Homo sapiens: one gene and its partner. The protein of the gene in region 1 interacts with the protein of each later gene in a biochemical or structural test. Each region holds a gene or a part of one and is shown on either strand. Other genes may lie near its edges. The genes, in order: EYA2 and GNAZ.

The links.
Region 2: the proteins of EYA2 (region 1) and GNAZ form a complex in vitro, tested with the Homo sapiens proteins (one study listed by BioGRID).

The regions. Positions count from the first base shown.
Region 1 is NC_000020.11:46,886,073-46,902,370, forward strand, and holds the start of EYA2 (protein phosphatase EYA2), read left to right. Parts: upstream 1-8,770; 5' UTR 8,771-8,915; intron 8,916-14,315; exon of another isoform or gene 14,316-15,193; intron 15,194-15,354; exon of another isoform or gene 15,355-15,676; intron 15,677-16,298. UniProt on the Homo sapiens protein: Functions both as protein phosphatase and as transcriptional coactivator for SIX1, and probably also for SIX2, SIX4 and SIX5.
Region 2 is NC_000022.11:23,073,519-23,080,518, reverse strand, and holds part of GNAZ (guanine nucleotide-binding protein G(z) subunit alpha), read right to left. Parts: intron 1-7,000. UniProt on the Homo sapiens protein: Guanine nucleotide-binding proteins (G proteins) are involved as modulators or transducers in various transmembrane signaling systems.

The DNA of each region.
Region 1 (16,298 bases):
TTCAAGACCAGCCTGGCCAACATAGTGAAACCTGTCCCTACAAAACATACAAAAATTAGCCGGGTGTGGTGGTGCAAGCCTGTAGCCCCTGCTACTCGGGAGGCTGAGGTGGGAGAATTGCTGGAACCCAAAAGGCAGAGGTTGCAGTGAGCTCAGATCCTGAGATCACACCACTGCACTCCAGCCTGGGTGACAGAGTGAGACCTTGTCTCAAAAAAAAAAAAAAAAAAAAAATTTTTACATAAATGGAATCATGATTCTTTTTTGGTAGGGAAGGTTCTGCCTTTTTCACTCAACATCATGGTTTTGACATCCATCTGTGTTATATGTGTATCAATAGTTCATTCTTTTTTATAATTTAATAGTCATTTATTGCATGGATATACCACAATTTGTTTATTCATTTACCTGCTGATGGACATTTAGACTGTTTTTAGATTTGGGCTGTTACAAACAAACTTGCTGTTAACAATCGTATACAAGTCAAGTCTTTGTGCGGATTTGTGTTTTCCTTCCTGTTGGGTGTCAAATAGGTGTGTCAGATGACAGAGGGATGTGCAACTTTTTAAGAAACTGCCAAACTGTTTTGTAAAGTGGTTACACCATTTGACATTCCCACCAGCAATGAATGAGAGTTCTAGCTACTCTACATCTTGCCAGCACTTGGTCTGGTCAATCTTTTTGTTAGCCAATATATTGAATACACGGTGACATTTTATTAGAGTTTAATTTGCATTTCCTTGATTATTAATGTTGAGCATTTCTTTATGTGCCTATTGACCATTTGTATATCATCTTTTTGAAGTGCTGGTTTGAAATCTTTGCCCATTTTAAAAATTGAGTTAATTGTCTTCTTAATTGTTGAGTTGTAAAAGTTCCTCATAGATCTGTTATAGATTCCTTATAGATTCAGAAGATATGTCTGATACATCACATGTCTTTGATACTCAGAACATGTACAACACATGTATCAGACACATCTTCATATATCTGTTATAGATTCTGTTATATGGATAGATTCCTTATAATATAGATTCCTTATATGTGTGTATATAATATGTGTAGGTGTAATCTCAGCTACTCAGGAGGCTGAGGCAGGAGAATCACTTGAACCTGGGAGCCCGGGAGGCAGAGATTGCAGTGAGCCGAGATCGCGCCACTGCACTCCAGCCTGGGCAAACGAACCAGACTCTGTCTCAAAAAAAAAAAAATTATAAAACTTCCAGAAGAAATCATTGCAACCTCGGGGTAGGCAAAGGTTTCTTCGAACACAAAAAGTACAAACCATGAAATAAAATATTGATAAACTGGACGACATCAAAATTTAAAACTTTCGTTCTTCAAAAGACAAAATTGAGAAAATAAAAGGCAAGCCATAGATTGGCAGAAATCTATCACATATATCAGAGACATTTTCTTATATCTGTTATAGATTCTGTTACAAGGATAGATTCCTTATAACAGAGATTCCTTATAACAGAATTGGAGGTTAGAAGCAAGATGGTTAAGTTGGATCTCTTTCACTGTCTCAGTCATAATTTTGCAAAGGTGGTTCCAGGCAGAGAGACCATCTGTCCCAGTTTGCTGGGGACAATCTTAGTTTATGCTTTGTTATTAATGCTCCTTTTGCTCTCAAAAGTGTCCCACTCTCAAAAGGTCTCTAGACCTCTGACCTTGAGGGACTCCTATAGTCTCTTCAGGTACTCCTTACGTCTTCAGGACCACAAAATCTTCTAGAATTTAGAACAATATCTGTTGGGGTTCTGGGGATCTCTGATGTCTCTCAGTCCTTGCTTCCGAGATAATTCCACCGATGCACGCTGAGATCAGTTGACTCCATTCACCATCCAAGACATTATATCCAGCTAAAAGCCAGCAAAAAGACAAGACAAATGTATTAAAAAGCCTTCTGGCTTCATTCTATTTGTTTTTACTCTCCTGGGAAAAGAGAATGCAAAAAGTGACAGATCTTGGAAGGAAATGGCCAGGAGGTGTAGAGATTCTTGTGCTTAGCTGAGAGGGCCAGCGTGGAGCTGGGTGAGGAGGTCACAGAGGAAGAACAGTTAGAGGAGAATGCTGTTTTAAACAGGGTGGTCAGGGTCTCTCTGGGGTAGAGGCATTTGAGCAGAGACCTGAATGGAGTGAGGGTGAAAACCATAGGACTATGTCAGGAAGGGGTAGTGCAGGCATAAAGAGCAGCATGCCTGGGTGTCTCAAAGGTCCCTCTTCACATGAGTGAATTAACATCTCCCACCGAACACTGGTGATCCTGAAATTCTGATGCTCTGCCAGAAAATGCACCCAAGAGTTGATTTCCCATTGTTTTAAATGGGAAACATTATAATGCATGACAGGTCAACCCAAGCCCCCAACACCCCAATCCTCATGGCCTAATCACTTCTTCAAGATCCTGGGCTCAAGAGATCCTCCTGCCTTGGCCTCCCCAAGTGCTGGCCCACTTTCTTGATAATGTTCTCTGCAGCAAAAAAGTTTTTAACTTTGATGAAGTCTAATTTATCTTTTGTTTGTTTGTTTGTTTGTTTTTTTGAGACAGAGTCTCACTCTGTTGCCCAGGCTGGAGTGCAGTGGCAAGATCTCAGCTCACTCTCTTAAAATAGAGCTAAGCACTTAAAATGCTGTCTTAGTCTGTTTGCTCTGCCATAACAAAATACCTGAGATTCTGGTATTTTATAAAGAACAGAAACTTATTTCTTATGGTTCTGGAGGATGAAAAGTTCAAGATCAAGGTGCCGGCAGGTTTGGTAGTCTGGTGAGAGCTGCTGTTTGCTTGCAACATGGTGCCTTGTTGGTGTGTCCTCCAAAGGAGAAGTTGAAGCAAGCCTCTATTTATTTAAGAAGGACCTGAATCTCATTCACAAGGGAGGAACCCTCATGACCTAATCACCTCTTCAAGGACTCACTTTTTTTCTTTTCTTTTTTTTTTTTTGAGACGAAGTCTTGCTCTGTCACCCAGGCTGGAGTGCAGTGGCACAATCTCGGCTCTCTGCAAGCTCCGCCGCCCGGGTTCACCCTTTTCTCCTGCCTCAGCCTCCAGAGTAGCTGGGACTACTGGCGCCCGCCACCACACCTGGCTAATTTTTGTATTTTTTAGTAGAGATGGGGTTTCACCGTATTAGCCAGGATGGTCTCAATCTCCTGACCTCGTGATGCGCCCACCTCAGCCTCCCAAAGTGCTGGGATTACAGGCGTGAGCCACCTCGCCCAGCCAGGACTCACTTCTTAATTCCATCACATTGGCCATTAAGTTTCAACTCCTGAATTTTGGAGGGGACACATTCAAACCACAGCACATGTCTACCAGTAAGTATCAAAGCAGTAAAATGTTTCAAACATAGCTTCCTGATCACCAAATCATCAGGAAAGTTTTCAACAAATAATTGGTTTGTCTGTGGCAACACAGCCACATCTGATTGCATGTCCCTTTCATTGCTCCTTAGTGTACTTTTCTAAATGTGATTCTGATGTTCTCTCAGTGGTAGTTGACATGCTGCTTTTCCTGCATGGTGTTTTGATGGAGATGCTAACTCTAATTTGGGGGATACAAATATCAGTTTTTCTTTGTAAATATTCATCTGATAATTGTGAGAAATGTGCCTTCTATGAAGTTTGAGTATTAAAAACAAAGTCATTTTATTGGAAAACTACTTACTGAAGAGACATTTGAAGCATCCCTGTATTTGTCTGCTTGGGTTAGGAAGGACGTGAGATTTCTCTCTCTCTGTCTCTCTCTCTCTCTTTTTTTTTTTTTAATGTTTGCAAAAAGCCCCTGCCCATCCCCACATACACACTGTATCATAAACTGCCTTTTTTGTAAAGACTCATGAGAAAATTTCTCTCCTGTATCAATATCAGGCAAAACTCTGATTTGCCCAAGTCATTTGGTTTCTTTCTCATAGAAGAATTAAGAATCATGAACACTGGCTGGGCACAGTGGCTCACGCCTGTAATCCCAGCACTTTGGGAGGCCGAGGCAGGCGGATCACCTGAGGTTGGGAGTTCGAGACCAGCCTGACCAACATGGAGAAACCCCGCCTCTACTAAAAATACAAAAATTAACTGGTCATGGTGGTGCATGCCTGTAATCCCAGGTACTCGGGAGGCTGAGGCAAGAGAATCGCTTGATCCCAGGAGGCAGAGGTTGCAGTGAGCCGAGATTGCATCACTGCACTCTAGCCTGGGCAACGAGAGTGAAACTCTGCCTCAGGAAAAAAAAAAAAAAAAGAATCATGAACACTATGGAGCACTTTGAAATCCATGATTCTTAATCTTGACTCTGCAGAGCTTTGGGGGTTCCTTCAAGACCTTTACACATACCTACAGGAGAAAGGGGTGAGGCATAAGGCTGTGGCTGGGAACCCTCACCTCCTTTTTCCATACTGAACTTCTATACATACTAGATTTTAAACAAAGGAAAGTTTGAAAGCCACTGATGTAACTGATCACATTTCTGTCCTTGCAGTGGCTGCCTGGAAGCTCAGCATCTAATTCTCAGTTCTCCACTGACAAGTGTCCAGGACCTTCTAGCTCACATTTTGTGTGCAAACCTTACCTTGACTTTCTTTTGTTTTCTTTCCTGTTTCCCTGTTGTCTGCTTTTCTTGTTTTCTTTATTCTGCTGCCATATATATGGTTTTATATGTTGCCTCAAATCCTTTTTGGAAAGAGCCAAGGTTTAAGTGAATGTATTTTAAAAAATTGAATGCTTTTTCTGTAGAGGTGACCTTTGCAGGTGGGAAAGGAATATGTTTAGAAAAAAGGCATGATTTGTAGAATTCACATGTGTGTTTGTAGGATATGTATATACATATCCTACAATGAATATACATACATTGGATATATTGTGAGGTTCATAGTTTTCAAAATTAATGTGTTTTTCTGGCTTTAGAGGGCATTTACTTGGAAGACTGGAGTGGGGGAAATGTGTTTTACTCCAAGGTAGGCATGACTGTGGACTACACCACAAAGAATCTGCTGTATGGCTTAGCACTTTCAAATTTTGTTTGGGATCATTTTGCTGGTTGTTATCAAATGAGGACAAATACTTAACAAAGAGATAGCAAGGGAAGAAAGAGACAGAAAGGGGGTGCTTCTACATAGGAAGGTGGCTGAATTTTCAGGGTCTTGAATTAGCATTGGGGGCTTAAGTCCTATCAGCTTCTGCTCATCTGCTGTGACTCTGTGGTCAAGGTCTCACTCTCCCAAAGATAGGGATTCTCTTCCTCTGCTGTATATTGGAATCACCTAGGGAGCTTTAAAAAAGGATGATGCCGGCCAAGCACAGTGGCTCACGCCTGTAATCCTAGCACTTTGGGAGGCCAAGATGGGTGGGTCACCTGAGGTCAGGAGTTCAAGAGCAGCCTGGCCAACATGAAGAAACCTTGTCTCCACTAAAAATACAAAACTTAGCTGGGCGTGGTGGCACATGCCTGTAATCCCAGCTACTTGGGAGGCTGAGGCAGGAGAATTGCTTGAATCCAGGAGGTGAAGGTTGCAGTGAGCCAAGATCACACCATTGCACTCCAGCCTGGGCGACAGAGTAAGGCTCCTTCTCAAAAAAAAAAAAAAAAAAAAAAAGGCAGATGCCACAGTTCCACCCCAGAGTCTGGTTTAATTGGTCTAGGATGGGGACTCAGCATGGAGATTTTTAAAAGCTCTCCCTGGAGATTCTGTGCACCCAGAGTTGAGAATCACAGCGCTAAGAGAAGGAAAAATAAAATTAATAAGCACCTGCCTCCTGCTTATCTCTCAGGGTCGTTGGGGTGTGTCTGTAATTTATGAAATAATGGGCCAGATTCTGGGGAAGGAATAAAATGGTATGAAGGAAATAGATTAACCCTTTGCATTCTATAGGGTACCTTTGGTTAACAAGTGTTCAAGATTTTTCCCCATGAGCCACAGGAAGAAACATTTCACATCCTGACCAAAGATATAGATATAGATATGGATATAGATATAGATACAGATACATGTGTGTATATATATATGTATGTATGTATACGTATATATGATATACGTATACATATATACATATATATCTCTCCATTGTAAATTGAAAATATCCTAAGTTCAAAATGCATTTAATACGCCTAACCTACTGAACATCATAGCTCAGCCTAACCTACCTTAAATGCACTCAGAACACTTGCATTACCTCGCAGTTGGGCAAAATCATCTAATACAAAGCCTATTTTATAATACAGTTTTGAATATCTCATGAAATTTATCAAATATTTTGCTGAAAGTGAAAAATAGAATGGTTGTATGGGTATCTCAATTGTGGTTTCTACTGAATACACATCACTTTCACATCGTCATAAAGTCAAAAAAATCATTAAGTGAAACCATCATAAATTGGGGACCATATGTATACATTTAACTATATATAGGGGATCATATGTATATATGTAACTATATATGTATAGGTATGTATATATATTCTTACTGCATACAATTCACTTGATATTTCCTATTCCAGTCTATTCCTTTAGGAAAAAAAAATTAAGGTTCACAGGCCAAGACAAATTAAACACCTCTGAAGGTCATTAAGATGCTCAATTTATAATGACTTGGAGCACTTAGCAAAGATACTATGGGAAGTGAAGCTGTGTGTACAGTAATAATATTTGTTGAGCAATTGCTAGTGCCAGCTGCAGTCATAGTAGAAAGTGTTTTATGAGCATGAGCTCCATGAATTTTCACAATAATAGTATAAGATGAGTACTGTTATTTTCACTTTAGTGATGAGAAAATCAAGGCCAAGTACATATGTACATTCTGCCTCTAGAAGACAGAAGCAGAGCCATCTCCAAGCCTACTGCGGCAGGCCCAGAGAAGAGAACAACCATGTTTACTGAATACATTTGCTTCTGTCTGAAGTTTGGGGAGTAGAAAGCGGAGTAAGCTATGACCAGAGGTGGGTCTGGGAATGGTGAGGCCTGATACATGTATAATTTGCAGCCCCTATTCAAGAAAAAGAGTACAAAATTATGAGTCCAAGATTAGATAAGAAAATGATTATTTCTTTAAATTAAGAAAAGAAATCACAACAAATTCAAATTTTAAGAAGCTGAAAATTACCACAAACATCACAAAATTCCCAACTCAACTTTCCTCCAAAATGCCAGCAGCCACCTGACACCACCCTACTCAAGGGCAAGTTGGGGGTGGGGAATCGGAGTGGAAAGACAGCGGTGTCTACGGCCTGCAGCCAAATGTCCAAAGCAAAGGACTTTTGTAAACTTTACATCAACAAGCCACCATCTGAACACTTTTCTAAGTCCCCTTAGAAAGGGGTCCAAGCAAGTCAGGGGCCCAAGAACTTAACCTTCATCAGCTCCTGTAAACTTACAACTGGAATTGAAGACTGTTACGGCTCAAGAGCAACGGCTTTGGAGTCAGCCAGGCCTGAATTTCATTCCTGGCTCAGCCACTTTCTGCCTTCTTTGAGCTTGGACCTGCTCATTTGTGAAATGAGTGTGCTGACAGCAGCTACCTTGGGGTCTCTCTTGGGGATTACATGAGATAAGGAAGAGTTGGGCATTGGATGAGCTTAAGGTTGCAAATAAAAATATAGGACCCCCGGTTACATTGGAATTTCGGAGACAAAAGAAATACTTTTTAAATATAAGTACGTACAACCAATCGCATAAGACATATACTGCAACTGATTCCTCGTTTCTCTGAAATTCAAATTCACCTGGGTGCCCTGTCTTTTACTGCACTTAAGAAATGACAGTGGTTGATATTGCTTTTGGATTGAAGCATCCTGGGTGTCCCACGGTGGAATTCATAGACATTAGAGAGTGGGTGACGGGCTAGGAAAGGCTGCATAGACTCCAATTAACACAGTTCATTGCCAGGGAGACTAAAAGGGGGGTGGCTATGAGAGGATGGAGTAAGTGGGGTGCCTTGATTTGGGCATGTAGGTGGAGGGGGCTATACCTCTCACTTTCACTAAACCAGTTAAGCTCTTGAGACCTCAGTTTCCTTAGCTGTAAAATGGGTGAAACATAGGGGAGACCCCTGAACCGTTCTCACCTAAATACCACACCAATGGCACTTCCTCATAATTCAGATGTCACCTCCTCAGAGAGGTCTTCCCTGACTGCTCTAGCTAAAATTACCGCCTCTCCTCCACTCCCCAACAGCAGATACATATATTATTTTTCTCCCTGTAACTCTAACTTTCTGAAACTGTCTTGCTTCTTTACTTGGTTATTTGTTTATGGTTTGCCTCTCCATGTGAATGCAAGTTCCGGGAGGGCAGAAAACTAGTCTGTCTTGTTCTAGCTGAGTCTCTCAGGAGTGGTACCTGGCACAGTAGATGCTCAATATATTTTGAATGAATGAATGGGTGGTTGAGTGAACGAATGTTAGTGTCACTATTGAGGTCCTCTCCGAGCCGTCGTTCCTTTCACAGGGGTCATGCCTGGGTTGCAGGGAGGATGTGCTGCCCCGGGGAGGGAGGAGGTGCGGGGTGTCGGTGGGTGGGGAGGAGGCTGGGCCCTGGCCTCCAGGACCGGCGAGAGTGAGCGCGCTCTGCTCGGCTGCAGGCTCAGGAAGCGGCGCGGCGGCACGTGCTGGGCCAGAGCCCCGCGCCCTGCGTCCAGCCGCCGGGTGTGTGCGCCCGCGTAGCCCAGCGTCGCGCCTCGGCGCCCCCACGCGCCCACGCAGCGGCGCGGGGACCCGGGCGGGGGCAGAGGGAGGGCCCGGCCCAGGGAGGAGAAGGGGCCGGTCCTCCCGGCGCAGGCAGCAGCCGCGGCAGCCCAGGAGGCGGAGGCAGCGGCAACGGCAGAGACAGCAACGTGCCCGCCGCAGTCAGCCCGGCCTCGTCGGACCCGCACCGGCCCGCCCGCCCGCCCGCACCGCGTCGGGGCGCCCTCTCCACTGCGCGCGGTGAGTACCGCCAGCGGCGCCCACCCCAGGCCGCCCGCCGGGATTCGCCGGGCGGGGGGAGTTGTTCACCGGGACCCCCTCGCCCTGCGCCTCTTTCTGGCACTCGCCAAGCGGGGCCTCCGCAGCTGTCGGGACGTTCTGGGGCGCACGGGCCTCCCAGGGCCAGGAAGGCACAAGGGCAGAGGGGACAGCAGCAGAGCCCCCCTCTGGAAAGGCTCTCCCAGGCTCGGGGCCCCAGTTTCCCCATGCGCTTTGGGGCAACGACCCTGAAGTTTGCTCTCCCGCGCGCGGGACAAGTGCATGGCGCGCAGGCGGTGTAGACGCGGCTGGGTCCTTGGCGTTTTGTTCGATTATGGTCCCGGCGGTTCGCGATAAGGGGCGCTCCCCCAGTCCGCAAACTCAAGCCCTCAGGTAGTGTTTATGGGATAACCAAGAAGCAGAGCCAACCGCTGGAATCCCGGCTTGGGGCTGGAACGGCCCGCTGAGACTTTGCCTTCTAGCTATTGATATATTTCTTTTCAAAAGTCCGTTTGCGCTCGGCCCGCTCTGGTTCAGGTCTGGGGCTTTGAACCGGGGCAGGGAATCCTGGCGCCTGCTGCGGGTAGAGTTGAAACTTAGAAAAGTTTACATCCGAAGGGTGTTTAGAAGGCGGCAAGGATTTCGTTGTAATGGGAGAAAGTGGGAAATGGAATTGTTTTTTAGTCATGAAGTCTGGAGGTTAAACGGCCGTGCTGGCCCAGGCTCCTTCAATATATTCCTGCCTGCCTCCCCCCCAGCAATAAATAGTTTATAAGCTCAAGGAATACTAGGAAAGCGTGACTGGTGAACGTACTCCTATCGCAAAAGACTCAGTGCGCTTTTCTCAGCTGTTGAACTGGAAGCGCCTTTTGCAGTGCGAGGTTCCTGCTTCCCCGAAGCCGAGGCTGAGAGTTGACAGCGTGCACCCTGCCGCGGTCTGAATTCTTTTTAAAAAGCAAGACCGATGCTGCGTTTTTATGGATACCCTTTTCTTTTCTTTCCCCTTCCCCGAAATGCTATGTAATCTTCAATTACTTTTTAAAATATAACGTGGAGGTATAAATCACCCCGGTAAGAGGTACCTTTTAATTACGAGGTGCAGTGGAAGAGCTGAACATTGGAATCTAGCTGTTAGCGAGGGCGGAGGGGCAGGAGGATGATTTACAAACATCATGTAAGAATTTGAGCACTGAATTATGTTTGAGTTAGGGAGATCCCTTACAAAGGAAATTATAACCAGTGGACAATTGTATTTCAAACCGAATCTATTAATTTCATGAGCCGTTTCTTGATTGAGTGAAATGTCTGTGACCATAATAGATACAGAACTAGTAAGCACCTTACCAGACTATGACCCATTTGTTAGCAACTAACATACACATGTAACCATCCTGCTTACAAAAAAAAAAAGAGGTACACAAAGAAAGAGTGGGAGGAGAGAACCTCTTTTTCAAAATAATCTTTGTGAAAGAATCTTTCACAATTTTACTCGATAAATAAATGTTCATTTTTTCCACTTGTCTTTCTTCATCACCTTAAGCCCCTTCATCCTTTACATATCTTTGCATTTAGACACTCTCACACTTGGGTAAGTTCTTCTATAATTTATATAACAAATAACAAATGATAGTGGTTTGAATCTTGCTTTTGACTAAGCATTAAATTGTGTTTGTATTAAAAAAAATCTCCTTGCCTTCGTAGCAAACTCTTAACTTTTGCCATTGTGAAAAGACCAATGTGGTTAGATGCAAAAGAGCCTGAACTTTTTTTTACTTTAAAGCAGTTTATATGTCCCCATTCTCTTGTAACTTCAGCTTCACAATATCATTCACTATTTTATCTGAAAGGAATTGGCATTTTTCTTTTCTGTCTTAAAATAGCTCACCTGGTGTTGTGACCATGTGTATGAGAATACTCTATAAACACACAAATCACTTCCCCAATATCAGAAAAACTAAAGGAAATATAAAATAAAATAAAAAGATGTGTATCTCAATACTTTAGGATTTTTTTAAAAAGTTTTCATCACGTAAGTTTTAGAATCTTCTTTTCATGTCTTTTGTTTTGCATTAAACACATCATAAAGAGGTATGATTTGTTGACTTGTTATAGGATTACCATTTGGCAAAAACGCCCAAGACACGCTGTTTCAAATATGTGGTATTACTTCTGCTTTAAATTGCGTGTAAGAGATTGCAAACCTTGTTCCAGATGGATAAATTGATAAAATGCTAGCTGCTGTTGGGAGAATGGAAAAGCCCTCAGCAAAAAGGCTCTGTGGTGTAGCTAAGTACATTTTGAATTAGGGTGAGCAAGCTATGGAGACCCCAGCCGTTTGTGAAAAAATATACACAGTCCAAGCACGTCCACTTTAAGACGTTGTTGGATCCTCCGTGACAAGATGACTCCTTTCCCACAAAGAAGAAACCGTTTCCTTATTTTTTCAGTTACTTTTCCAAAGACAACTTGCATCGGGCGCAAGAGAGCAGAGTTATGCAGAAATCCAACCGTAACCAGCTCAGAGCGAGGACTCATTCTCTCTCCTTCCACCAGATGTTTTTTAGGTGTCCTCAGCTGGAATGCCCAGTTTGAAACTAATTAGGCCAGCAGTAAACTCCTTGTATAATAAAATCGCAGGCCGTAATGGTGAATAAGTGAGGTTCCCAGCCGCTTATGACAGATGCCTTTCTGGGCAGAGAGAGAAGAGAGCCTGTGGCTGTCAGGAGAAAATGAAGGGAGTGGAGGTGCCTTCTTTAGACACATGCCTTTCCTAAGTATCCACGCACATGATCGCAGAGCGGAGGAGTGGAAGTTGCGACTGGGGTAGAGTTTTGTCTTTGCTGGGCAGGCCTCCTTCATACAAAGATGCTTGGGGGAGAATCAATTATAAGTATTAGGCAGTGTCTTCAGGTCTTAGGTGTATGCTGTGTGTGTGTGTGCAAAGGCTTGGGGAGAAGGATTGGTGTCACGTGCGGGGCAGTGTAAAAAACTTAACTGCTTCCCACCTGGGCACAAAATGAAAAGAAAGACTGCCTGGCCTGACATAAATTCCTTGGGAGAGAGGAGAACCTGCTCCCCCAGAGACTTTTGATAAAGGGAGAATTCGCCTAATGATGTGGTTCCCCTTATCTGTGAGGTTTGTGAGGGTGAAGGAGTTGGTTAGTCTGTTACCTCCAAAGGCTGGACTTTCTGACTAAGACTGGGTTTTGTTGGTGGAAGGAACCGGGTTTTTTGGGTTTTTGTGTTGGTTTTTTTTTTTTTTGGTTGTTTTTGTTTTTGTTTTTTTTAGCTAACTGTTCTGAAAAAGGAGTTGGTAGACTGTGCTCAAAAGGAATCTCTTTACAAAGAATTAATCCCAGAGTTAAGAAAACACAGCCTGTTGACAGAAAACACACACACACACACACACACACACACACCACAATTCTTCACTCACTCCCAACCCTCTTCCCTGATCTCCATCCCCCAATGTCATAACAGCTTCCTGAATGGCCCACTTCTCCCCACTATCATTTGTGGCAGTTCAAACAGTCCTAAACATACAAAACAAAAAGAAGATTCTGGTAAGAAAACAATTAGCAGAGAATTCGCTGGAGACAATGCTTCGTTTTCACTGTTTGAAGATCGTAACTGGCCTAATGGTGTTTGACTAACACCCTTTTCTAGTCGGAGGAGGATAAACACCCCCTCCGTCAGGTGGTAAATACTTGAAGTGACAGTAACTGAGGCTGCAGACCCACTTGTGTTATTGTAAATGAATCAGAGGGGCAAGACCTTGTTCTTTACGGCGTGTGATTTAAAATCAGTTTTAAGGTACCTGCCAGGTGTATTTAGAGGAAAAGGCATGAAGGAAGCCACAGGCTTATACATTCATTTTTAGTGCATATTTCTTTTTGTTCATTTTCATCCTATTGAGTTCCTTTGTCATTTCTCTGACTTGCAAATTATACCCTTCTGTTTAATAGTAATGATGAAAATAGCTGCTGTTTATTGAGAACTGGTATACCAGGCCTGCAGTCAGCTCTTCACGTGTATTTTTAAAGTGGATTCTTGCCGCAACCCCTTGAGTATTATTATCATTATTTCAACTTTGTTAACAAGGAAACTGAGTCGCAGGTCAAATGACCGACACAGGGCCAGACTGAGTGAAAATGAAATCTACGCTTTTGCTTCTCTGCAAAGTATGCCTTATCCATGTGCAATACAAGCTTTGGCTCAAAACATTTCTGCTATCATTTCCTTTGGAGGAAGATGCTGAATTTGGATGGTTTTAAATGCACAGAACACAGTTATTTTCTGAACCTGCCCTGACGTTTTTTGCCACTGTCGTTTGAAATGGGGAAACAAAATCATATTAAATATTCAGGAACACAAATACAAACCTCTGTGAGCCATGACCCTTAACCGGTTGGGTATGGTTCTGTAAAGGAAAATGACGGTTTATTTAAGGGCTAATTTGATTTATTCCTTCGATACTAACACTACGCATTTCAGGTCCTAAAAAGAGTCAATAAATTTACCGGCAGTGGAGAGGCCCTAAAACATTACGGTAGGCGCAGCCCAAGTCAAGTTTACCGGAAGGTGCTGGATCGCTATGGGTGGGTGTTGTTTCGGGTTAGATTTTAAACATTTGGAGAGCAAAGAATAATTTGGAACAGGTGGTGCCGAGAGTCAGGTAGCTGGAATGATTTATCTTTGCCTCTTTGAACGTTAAGGGAGGCCACTGGTTGCCTGAATCTGGAACCAGCAGGCTGCGGGTCAGTGGGGGCTGAGAGACTCGTCTTTGGGACAAACTTTGGCAGGATCCAGGGGCTTCGTCAGCGCTGTCATCGCCTTTGGATGATAGTAGTCAGAACACAGTTGTGCCTGCTCGTGCATTTTTGAAAAGTCTGCCTCTGCCTTCAGATATATGCAGAAATCTAAAACAGGAACTTAGACGCGCCGCAATGCCAATTTAAACATCTTTAAAAATGAACAAAGTATGTAATAGAGGTTAGAAACTCTTTTGTCATTTGGTATCAATAGTGTTGTGTCAGTAACATGAAAATGTGTGTAATTTCAATGGCATTGCACTTTCTTCTTCTTTTTTCCTTTTGAGTATCTAGTAAAGTTACATTTTTTAAAAGTCTGTGTTCCCAGATGTAATAGATACGAACGTATCTACTTGCAGTCATTCAGAGGAGAATTGTCAACTCTCTGCTAATGTAACTAAAGGAAAAATGATAAAATCAACATATTTTTCCCCAAAGAATGAGGAACTGGAGGGTTTGACTACTGTATATGGCAACTTACTTTTGTCTCGCGTCAGCTAAATCTGTCAGTTCCCCTTTCTTTTCTATTCATCTCCCAAGAATGGCCTTTCATAACTGAAATACACGTGTATTAGCCAAAAGACATTTTAATTTTGTAAAGAAAAATCATGCCAGAGACAGCCGGGTCTGTTTCAACCATTATTGTTTCTGCAGCATGCATACTTTGGGTTTCATGGTAAGATGTGGGTTTGTCAAGAAAGAAAATTACAGCAAGAAGCTATGCTGAAAACATATACACTTCTGTTTAAGAAATGAGAAAAACACAGAAAAATTCCACACAGTAATTGCTTTTACGTGAGTTTTAAATGTCATTGTTTGACTTATGTCAAAAAGCCCCCTTAGCCAGTTCTCTCATACTCCGTTACCAAATATCTCACCTTAAAAACAGCAAATGTTGGACTTCATTTTGATGATCTTTGAGGCTTTCAGAGATATCCTTAGTCCTAGTGGAAACATTCCAAATTTTTAGATTGTGCAGGCCATTTTTTTAAGGTTACTTAGATATCGATTTTATTTTCTTGACCCAAAATGAGAAAACACGGGGAATTCTCAAAAGCTTTTTACAGGCTGCTATTACGAGAAGAGAAGCCAAACCAACATGTATTAGGTCATGCGCTTGAAGTGCATAAATAAGCCCTATGAAGGTCACCAAACAGGGTGAAAACCACTAGTTCTCGTTACCTTGGCCACCTCTAAATTCCTGCCTGTTAGACGTGTTTGGTTGAAGTGGACACAGAAAGCGGGTTTCCGAGCCCGTGGTTGAAAGATCTCAATTTGACTTGGGTCCTCAAGGCGTCCTTGTGGTAAAGGGAGATAGGAAGGCTGAAATTCTGGTCTCCTCCCCATGGCTCCCTCTCACGGTTCCGGAGAAAAAGCAGGTACTGGGGCCTTCTCTTACTCCAAAGCAGATGTTTCCTACCTGGTATTCGGATATGCGGAAGTCAGAAGCTGAAAATAAAATGAAATGAAAATGTTCCTTCTGGTCAGTTTCTTCACCTCCCATTCCCTTCCTATAGTCACTTTGTGGTTAAGGTATTCATGGTTTCCAAAACAATTTTTTGTTCCCACTATGTTTTCTAGCATTTAAGATGCAAGGTATAAGTACTCACCTTTAAATCTCTATTGATTGGCAGCTTCCTGAAATACAGAGTCAGAGAGCGTGTCCACCACGTCCTGAGTTTGGTACCAACCCAGGTGCTGATGGAAATTCCAAGTAGGGAGAAAACGTCCTCTTCGGAGAGGCAGGGTGTCAGCGCAAAGAGGTTATTTTCTTTTGTGGGTGTGTATTATTTGCACATATCAGGACTTTTGTTTCAGGGTGTTCTAGAAACATTGATCTCTCCAGCAAAGTTCTGCGTGTCCTTCTTGGTTGGGAAGGGAGCGGAGAGGAAGGAGCCCCGAGGAGAATCGTGCACCTTTGGCCTTTTGTGTGACTCCTAGAGTAGAGGGAAGCCTCCGCTGCTCGGAAGGTGTCACGTGGTATAACAAGTTGTGACTTGTGCCTGTGTTGTCAACAGAGTTTTAGCCCCGTCCAGACATGAAAAAGAATGGAGCCCCGAAGATGATTCACCTCCGGTCTGCGATGGGCCCAAGCTGTCCAGTGCTCTCCTCTTGCTAAACAGACCATACTCCCTGGAGGAGTTAATGGCTGGGGTGTGGAGAGAAGACCGGTAGGAGGGGAGAAAGAATGCCTTAAACTCAGCAAATGTCTAAAACGCTCAAAATGTCTCAGCATTGCTCAGGCACCCACAAGAAAGACAAACTGATAAAAGGACATAGAATCAGGCTTTTTTTGAGGGGGAAGCACAGAGAGGTTGGGGGTTTGCTAGAGGTTTGATCTAGAGTGGACAATTTTTCTAACACCTTGGGACCCGATTTTGGAAATGTCTTCCTGTAGCCTTGCTGTCATTCCTTTGTGCTTATTTTTAGTGAATTAGTTTTGGGGATTTTCTTTTGTTTTTAAGAAAACACAGAGTTGTAAGACTTGTTTGGGAATCACAGGTTTTATTGAACACTTATTATTTATTGAATATTTATTATGTCCCAGGCATTG
Region 2 (7,000 bases), on another chromosome or scaffold:
CTATCCTGAAGCCATAGTCCGAGCAGATGGGAGGAAGGACTACGGTTAGTGAACACAGTGTCCCCATCCTACAGACAACCCCAGGCTATGCCCCGGCTGGGCCTCCCAGTGTCCTTCTGCTAAAGGAAGGGGAGATGAGATGACCGGGGAGATGAGATGAACAGGGAGGCCCTTCCCTGTAACCCTGTGCTGTCCTGGCTCTGGACACCCTCAGCCACCTGTCCTGTCTTTTGGCCCACAGCCACCACGGCTGACCAGACAAAGGGTGATAGTGTCGCCTGAGGAACACTGACTCAGGAGGAAATCAAGCCAGATATTTCTCTGGGCCAGGAGTAAATAAATAAATCAATATGCAAAGGTTCCACCTATGGAGGAGAGGGTGGCCATGACAGCAGAGAAGAAGTGGGGCCTTCATTAAGAGCCAAATCAAAGAGGTTGCTGCCTTGGAGAGAGCCGTAGCCCCAGGCTCCTGGCTCCCCAGTTTCCCCAGGGAAGGAAACTGCTGACTCCATCAAACCCTCACTTGAGTGGGGAATCTGATTTCACCTTCTGGGTCTTTGAGGCCCTGCAACCTCCTGCCCTCTGCCTCCATGTGTGGCATCCCACAATCCCATCCCCTACCTTGGGGACCTAGGGGCATGAGTGGTGTCCACTACATGCCCAGCACGCCTTCCCTGCGTCCCTTTCCTTGAGAACTGAGGCTGGCACCACAGGTTGTGGCTGGACCCAGCCAGCCTCAGGGGAACCCTTAATTGCCCTGACTGTCCAGAATTCTACCACTCACTCCCGCTAGCCAGCCCCAGCCTCTCATCTGTTTTGCAGCAGTATGACTTCTCTGGTCTTGCTGTCTCCAGCCCCCTGTGCCCTGTGCTCCACCAGCAGCCAGGGGCATCCTTGTAAAAATGAGGCAGAGTATGTCTCACTTGTGCTTGAAACCTTCTCATGTTTGCTCCCGACGCTTGCTTGACATGGGCAGACCCCGAGTCAAAGTCCAGCCAGGGCACCAGGGCTGTGCAATGCCTGGCCTCTCTGACTCCCACGCCCATGCTCCCCCTCCCCCACTCCTGCCATGCTGCCTCTAGCTGCCTCTCTAGCACCATCCCTCACTCTTAACTCAGGGCCTGTGCACTGGCTGTTCCTTCCTCCTGGAAAACTCTTTGTCCAGAAAGCCAAGTGGACTTCGCTTCCGCGCCCTCTCCCCATCCAATGGCTCAGATGTCCCTTCCTTAGGAGGCCTCCCTGCCCATCCTATTTACGATGGAAAATGACCCCCATATTCGCACACAGCCACACCACGTGTGCTGCCTTGCCCCAAGCATGGTCCCTTTCTAGCACACTGTATAATTTACTTAGAGTGTTTATCGCCCACCTCTTTCCCACTGTGCCATAGGGCAGGGACTGTTGGTCTGTTTGTTCATTGATGTATCCCATGTGCCCACATGGACCTAGCACCAAGCAGGTGCCAATAAATCAATCCCAGGCCCTCGTAGTGACTGAGTGAGGAATCGGTCAACGTGGCTCACGGAGGGGATAGTTGGGGACTTCTGGGAGGTCTTCTGGAAAGGCCCGTGGCCTTCCCTGGGTGGACACGGGTAGACGCACAGCCCCCGCCCACCTGGACTTGGCCGATCCTGATGCTGCCCCACGACTAAGCCCTCAGGCCCGGGAGCCAGGATGTCCCCTCATCTTGTAAGCCCTTTGGGGCTGGGCTTCTGTTGCTACCCCTGCAAGTGTGCTCCCACCCCACATACATTGCATGGCCCCTCAGCCCCCTTAGAAGCCCTGGCCCTCACCCTTGGCCTTCTTCCTGTGCCAGTGATGGGGATAATCCCCCAAACCCTGGCCCACCCAGAGCCTGGGGCTGCAGCCCATTCCCTGTGGTCCCTGGGGACCGCAGTGGCCACACCCTCCACACCTCCTCTATCCATTCCACACCATCCTGGGAGGAGGGAGAGCCCCAGAACAGCCAGCGTGGCAAGACAAACACACTGGAGACTGAGGCCAAGCACTCCAGGAGCCACGACAGAGATGGGGGTGTCAGTGTGGCCAGGAGACTCCTTGGAGGAGGTGGGCAGTGTTGGGGGGACAAGGGCAGCCCCACCAGTGCCTCTGTGTCCCAGCCACGGGGTGGGGCAAGGCTGGGCATGGCTGTGCTTGCGTGCGTGGTGTTATCATAGAGGAAATCAATGCCTGGCACTGGCCCAGTGTTTAAGGGAAATGAATAGATTTTGGCCGAGGACAAAGAGAGTTTGATTAATCCGAAATTGGATAATGGAGGCAACACTCTAATTATTTTTCTTCCCAGCATTTCATCGAGAAATATGTTTGCACAGCATATCAGAGGTAACTGAGCGGGTGAGGGGGTGACCATGCTGGAGGAAAGCCCAGCTCGGAGACAGGCCACCCGCACCCGCCCTCACCAGCAGGGGTCCTGGTAGCCACTCTACAGGGCCACAGGAAGCAAGAGGGCTGGGTGGGGCTGGCCTGAGGCCACATGCAGCTGGGGCAGCTAAGGCCAGAGGGACATGCCATGCAGAGCTGGGCAGGAGGAGGCATGAGGGCCAAGCCCTCATGGTGGAGTTGCTCCTCCCCTGGCCTGGCCACAGTTAGGGGTAGGGCCACTAGTGTGGGGGTGCAAGAGGAGTAGGGGTGAGGTACCACCAGTTCACAGGGGGTCAGGGCCTGCTGGGGTCAGGGTGAAGGCTGTAGGTGCCAAGTTCTCCCACCCATAGTCAGAAGGGTCTTCAGAAGGCCCCTCTTGGCAGCTTGGAAGGTTTTCCCAGCTTTGCCTCTGGGGAAGCCTGATTAGCTGCTCCATAGCCAAGGTCAGACAGGACCACCGGGCCCCACAAACACAGAGCCTGGTACTTTACATGCCTCAGCCCTCCTTAGTCACCTTGCCCCCTCCTCCCTTGCTGACCCCACTCCTGCAACACCTGGAGCTGAAACCACACGGTTTAGCACCTTGTTTCCGTGGCCATCCAGCCTCCCAATTCCAAGAAGGCTTCTAGGGGCTCCTTGCTGGAACAGAGATCAACATCAGGTGTACATCCAAGAGGAGGCTCCCGGCCTTGTAGAGTGGTTGAGTCTCTACCACTCATTCACTTATTCATTCTTCAGTGTACAGAAAGAGGCTGCCATGAACGAAGCATGGGGTTGGACCCTGAGGTCACTACAGGGAGTGAGGCATCAAATGAGAGAAGAGACAGTCAGCAAGCAATGACCTGAGCTGCTCATGGGACTCAGGAAGACGGAGGCCAGTCCTTCCCAATAAGGGGTTAGCATCAGTGTCACTAAGGAAGGGGCATGTAAGGAGAGATAGGGTGGGTTAAAGCTGCTAGATAGGAGGGGGTACAGTGGTGAGGTTCACCAGTCACTGGCAAGCTCATCTAAATCCTGCCTCCCGTGCCCGCTGCAGACATCACTAATCGACCATGACTCTTTCCCTCTGGGCTGCAGCACAGCCTTAGAATCCTCTTCAGCACAGCATGCTTTGGACGGTCACTCCAGAGTTGAGATAAGGAAGGAAACTATCTGTACACTTGACCCAGCCCAGAGCTTCCAACTCAAAGGCAAGGAAGGCCCAGAGAGTGGAAAGCATTCGCAGGGTCACCATCACAGGCAGAGCTGGACTTCTACCCAGGCCTGGTGCCTTCCCCTGCCCTGAGCTCCTCTACTGGCCTGAGAGGCCACTCCTTGATCTTGGGGCACAGGGGCCACCTGGAAAGGCCACTCTACCATCATCATGTTCCTTTACTACCTTCAGGGTCTTGGCTCATCCCCTTAGGACAGTTTTCCATAGACATGCCTCTGAAGGTCATCACTCTGTGAATCCCCGTGTCTGACAAAGGCCCCACTGAGTCACATTGCATCACTGAGTGGCCCGGCGTCAGCCCGAGGCATCTGTCCACCTGCCTCTGGCTTGAGAGTAACCCACAGTTGGGCCTGACGGGGCCCAGCTGGTAGCATCCACCTGAGGGTGGTTTGTGTTTGGTGGCCAAACCTGAGGCCCAGAGACACATCTCTGGGGACCCAAAGGTACAACCTCTTAGGAGCAGAGGGTTGAGCTGGAGCAGGGGTTCTGCAGCGCACGAGCACACAGCTCAGCCCTAGGGCAAAAGGGGCTGGACAGGGCCACTGAGGCATGACTGTCTGCGAATATTCAGTCCCTCCACAGCGACTCCCTGGGTGGCGATTCTCAATGGTGACTCCGCAACGTCCCTGCCCTCATGGAGCTTACACAAACACATACGATGAATGAATCAAATAGGGAGCAGGTCACGCTGTGGCGAGTGCTAAGGGGAAAAAAATAGCAGCAGGAAAGGGCATAGGAAACATGGTCAGGAACATGGCGCTGTTCTACATAGAGGCCCCACCAGCCCTGTCTGGAGCAGGGCCACAGCCTAAGAGCCAGCCCTCACTGCCATGCCAGCCTCCAGCACAGCCTCCTCCTCAGCCACCCTTCCTATGACCAACCAGGGTGAGAGGGACCATGCTGCCCAGATGCGGGGCTGCCCAGACCTACTAAGGCACTGGGCACATGAGGTCCACTCTCCACACCTCAGAGGACCTTGGCCTCCATGACTCACAGGGGCAGACCTCACAAAGGAGCAGACCTCACAGGGGCAGACCTCACAAAGGACCTTGGCCTCCGTGACTCACAGGGGCAGACCTCACAAAGGGACCTCTGTCCTGGCAGCTCTCCATCCCAGGGGCCAAGGGTCTCCTGAAAGGTTTGCTCTAACCACAACCACGGTCCCCCATGGCCATGAGAGGCCTGGCTGAGCCCTCGGGGACGGGGTGTGTTTCTGGTTGGAGGCTGCTAGAAGGAACACCCCCGGGCTTGACACTATGTGTAAGGCCCCTCCCTGCACTGTGGCTTTTAACAGTCTCGCTTCTTAGCACTTTTTGATGGATTCTCCAGGGACGTCTCTAAAAGAGAGTTATACCTTAATTTAGAAGCAAATAACTCAAAACTCTGTGATGTGGCAGCTTCCTTTGGAAAAGAGATGAACGCAAAGAAGCCATTGCTGTGTGAAGCTGTGGCCATGTAGGTCCAGGGCCTGCTGATGGGACCATCTAAACCTCAACCTCAAGATGTGCCTCCTGCTGCCTCTTGCCCAAGGGTCCACAGACCAAGGGGCAAGAAGCAAGACATTTAGTGAAGAATTGCAGCAGGCAATTGCCTGCTGCAGTTTTCACTTTGGGTTCCCTGGGCCATGGTGCCAAGGTGAAGCTCACAGGCTGGGTGTGACTGACTCCAGCGGCCCTGAAAGTCCAACGCAACCCACCCGCCCACTCAGGGAAGGGAGGAGAAATGCTGTGGGGACTGGGCAGCAGGCAGGTTGCGGGCCCACCCTCCAGGCCTTCCTTCTCCACAGGGGCCACTACATCCCCAATATTATCCTTGAGGTCCCTGTGACCAGCCAGCTTCCTGGGCACTCACTTGGGCATCCATACAGTTTTAATGCTCTGCTGTTGCTGTTCTGGAATGCATAATTTTAGTTTTACTTTTGTAGAGACAGGCTCTTACATGTTGCTCAGGCTGGTCTCAAACTCCTGACTTCAAGTGATCCTCCTACCTCAGTCTCCCATAGTATAGGATTACAGGTGTGCGCCATCATGTCAGGCCCTTAATAATTTTCAAATGGGGGCCCCCAAAATCATGTGGCCAGCTGTGCCTGCATTGCTCAGTCCCTGGGCATGCCCTGCCTGCTTGACACAGGGGACCTGCTCTCTGGGACCCGCTCTTCTCCAGCCTCCCGAGGCGCCACTGTGACTGTGCTTCCACCTCACTTGCCCGTCAATCCTCAATCTCTCTTTCTCGATGCTTCTCAACTCATCCTCCCCACAGTGGAGGCCCAGGAGCCCAGCTCAGCCTCTTCTGATCCTACCTACCCTTGATCCCTAAGTGACCTCACGTGGTCCCCGGCCTGCCACACACCTCAGTGCCAGGGGCTCCAGGTTGCCACCTCCAGCCTTGCTCTCCCTCTGGCCACATGTGCCCATCAATGGCTCTCCAGGTCTCAGACCCACCTCCTAATTCCCCACCTCTCCAGAATGGGTTTTTCTGTATCTTGCTTCTCAGCCAATACCAGCTCCATCTTTCTACTGGTTCAGACCAAAACTGCAGCTGTCCTTTAAAAGCTGCAGCTTTAAAAAAACAAATCTCCCACCTGCATTTCTCAGGGCCTCCAGAGCTCCCACCCCTGGGTCAGCAGCCTCTCTGCCTGGGATGTTGCAGTAGCCCCTCATGGCCCCCAGCCTTACCCCACCCTAGCCTATTTTCCCACCTCAGCAGAGAGATCTTTTCAAAGTGTAGATTAGCTCCTCCTGGGAGGGCAGCTCCAGTCTCTTCTCTGCTCCAACCCTGCCAAGGTCTTCCTGCCTCATTGGGGCCCACTGAGTCCTGCAGGACCTGGCCCTGACACCCCACCCACACTCCTGCACCAGGTTCCAGCCACTCTGGTGGGGCCTCCAGGGGCCAGGGAGTGTCTGCTCAGCGCCTTTGCACCTGCTGTCTCTCCCCTGCTCAGCCACACCACTCACCCAGCACTTCTGCATGGCACTGTGTCAGTCCCCCACCCCCATCTCGTGTCCCCCACCTTCTGCTTTAGTGTTCTCCACAGTGCAGCACTTAGTAACATGTGTTACTGTCAACCCCTGCCCGTCTGGTGTGAGCACTGTGAGTGGATGCTACGTCCCTGCTGTACCCCTGCACCTGGCACAGTGCCTGGCATGCAGCAGGCGCTGGTAAATGTTAGCTGAACAAATGAATGGATGAATCGCGTGAGGTTCTGCTCCTCCGGCTCAGTCCAGAGGGCTGATGTCTCCTCCTATGTGCTCTAGGATCTGTCAAGCGGTCCCTGTTGGTTCAATCCTGTGAAGCGCCTCCCCTGGCGGTGTTCGCACGAAAGGGCCAAAATGTGTGGCAGGGGCTGGTGTGGGGACAGGGCAGGGCACTCTTGGCTTTGGGTATGGATGAGGATAATGAGGTTCA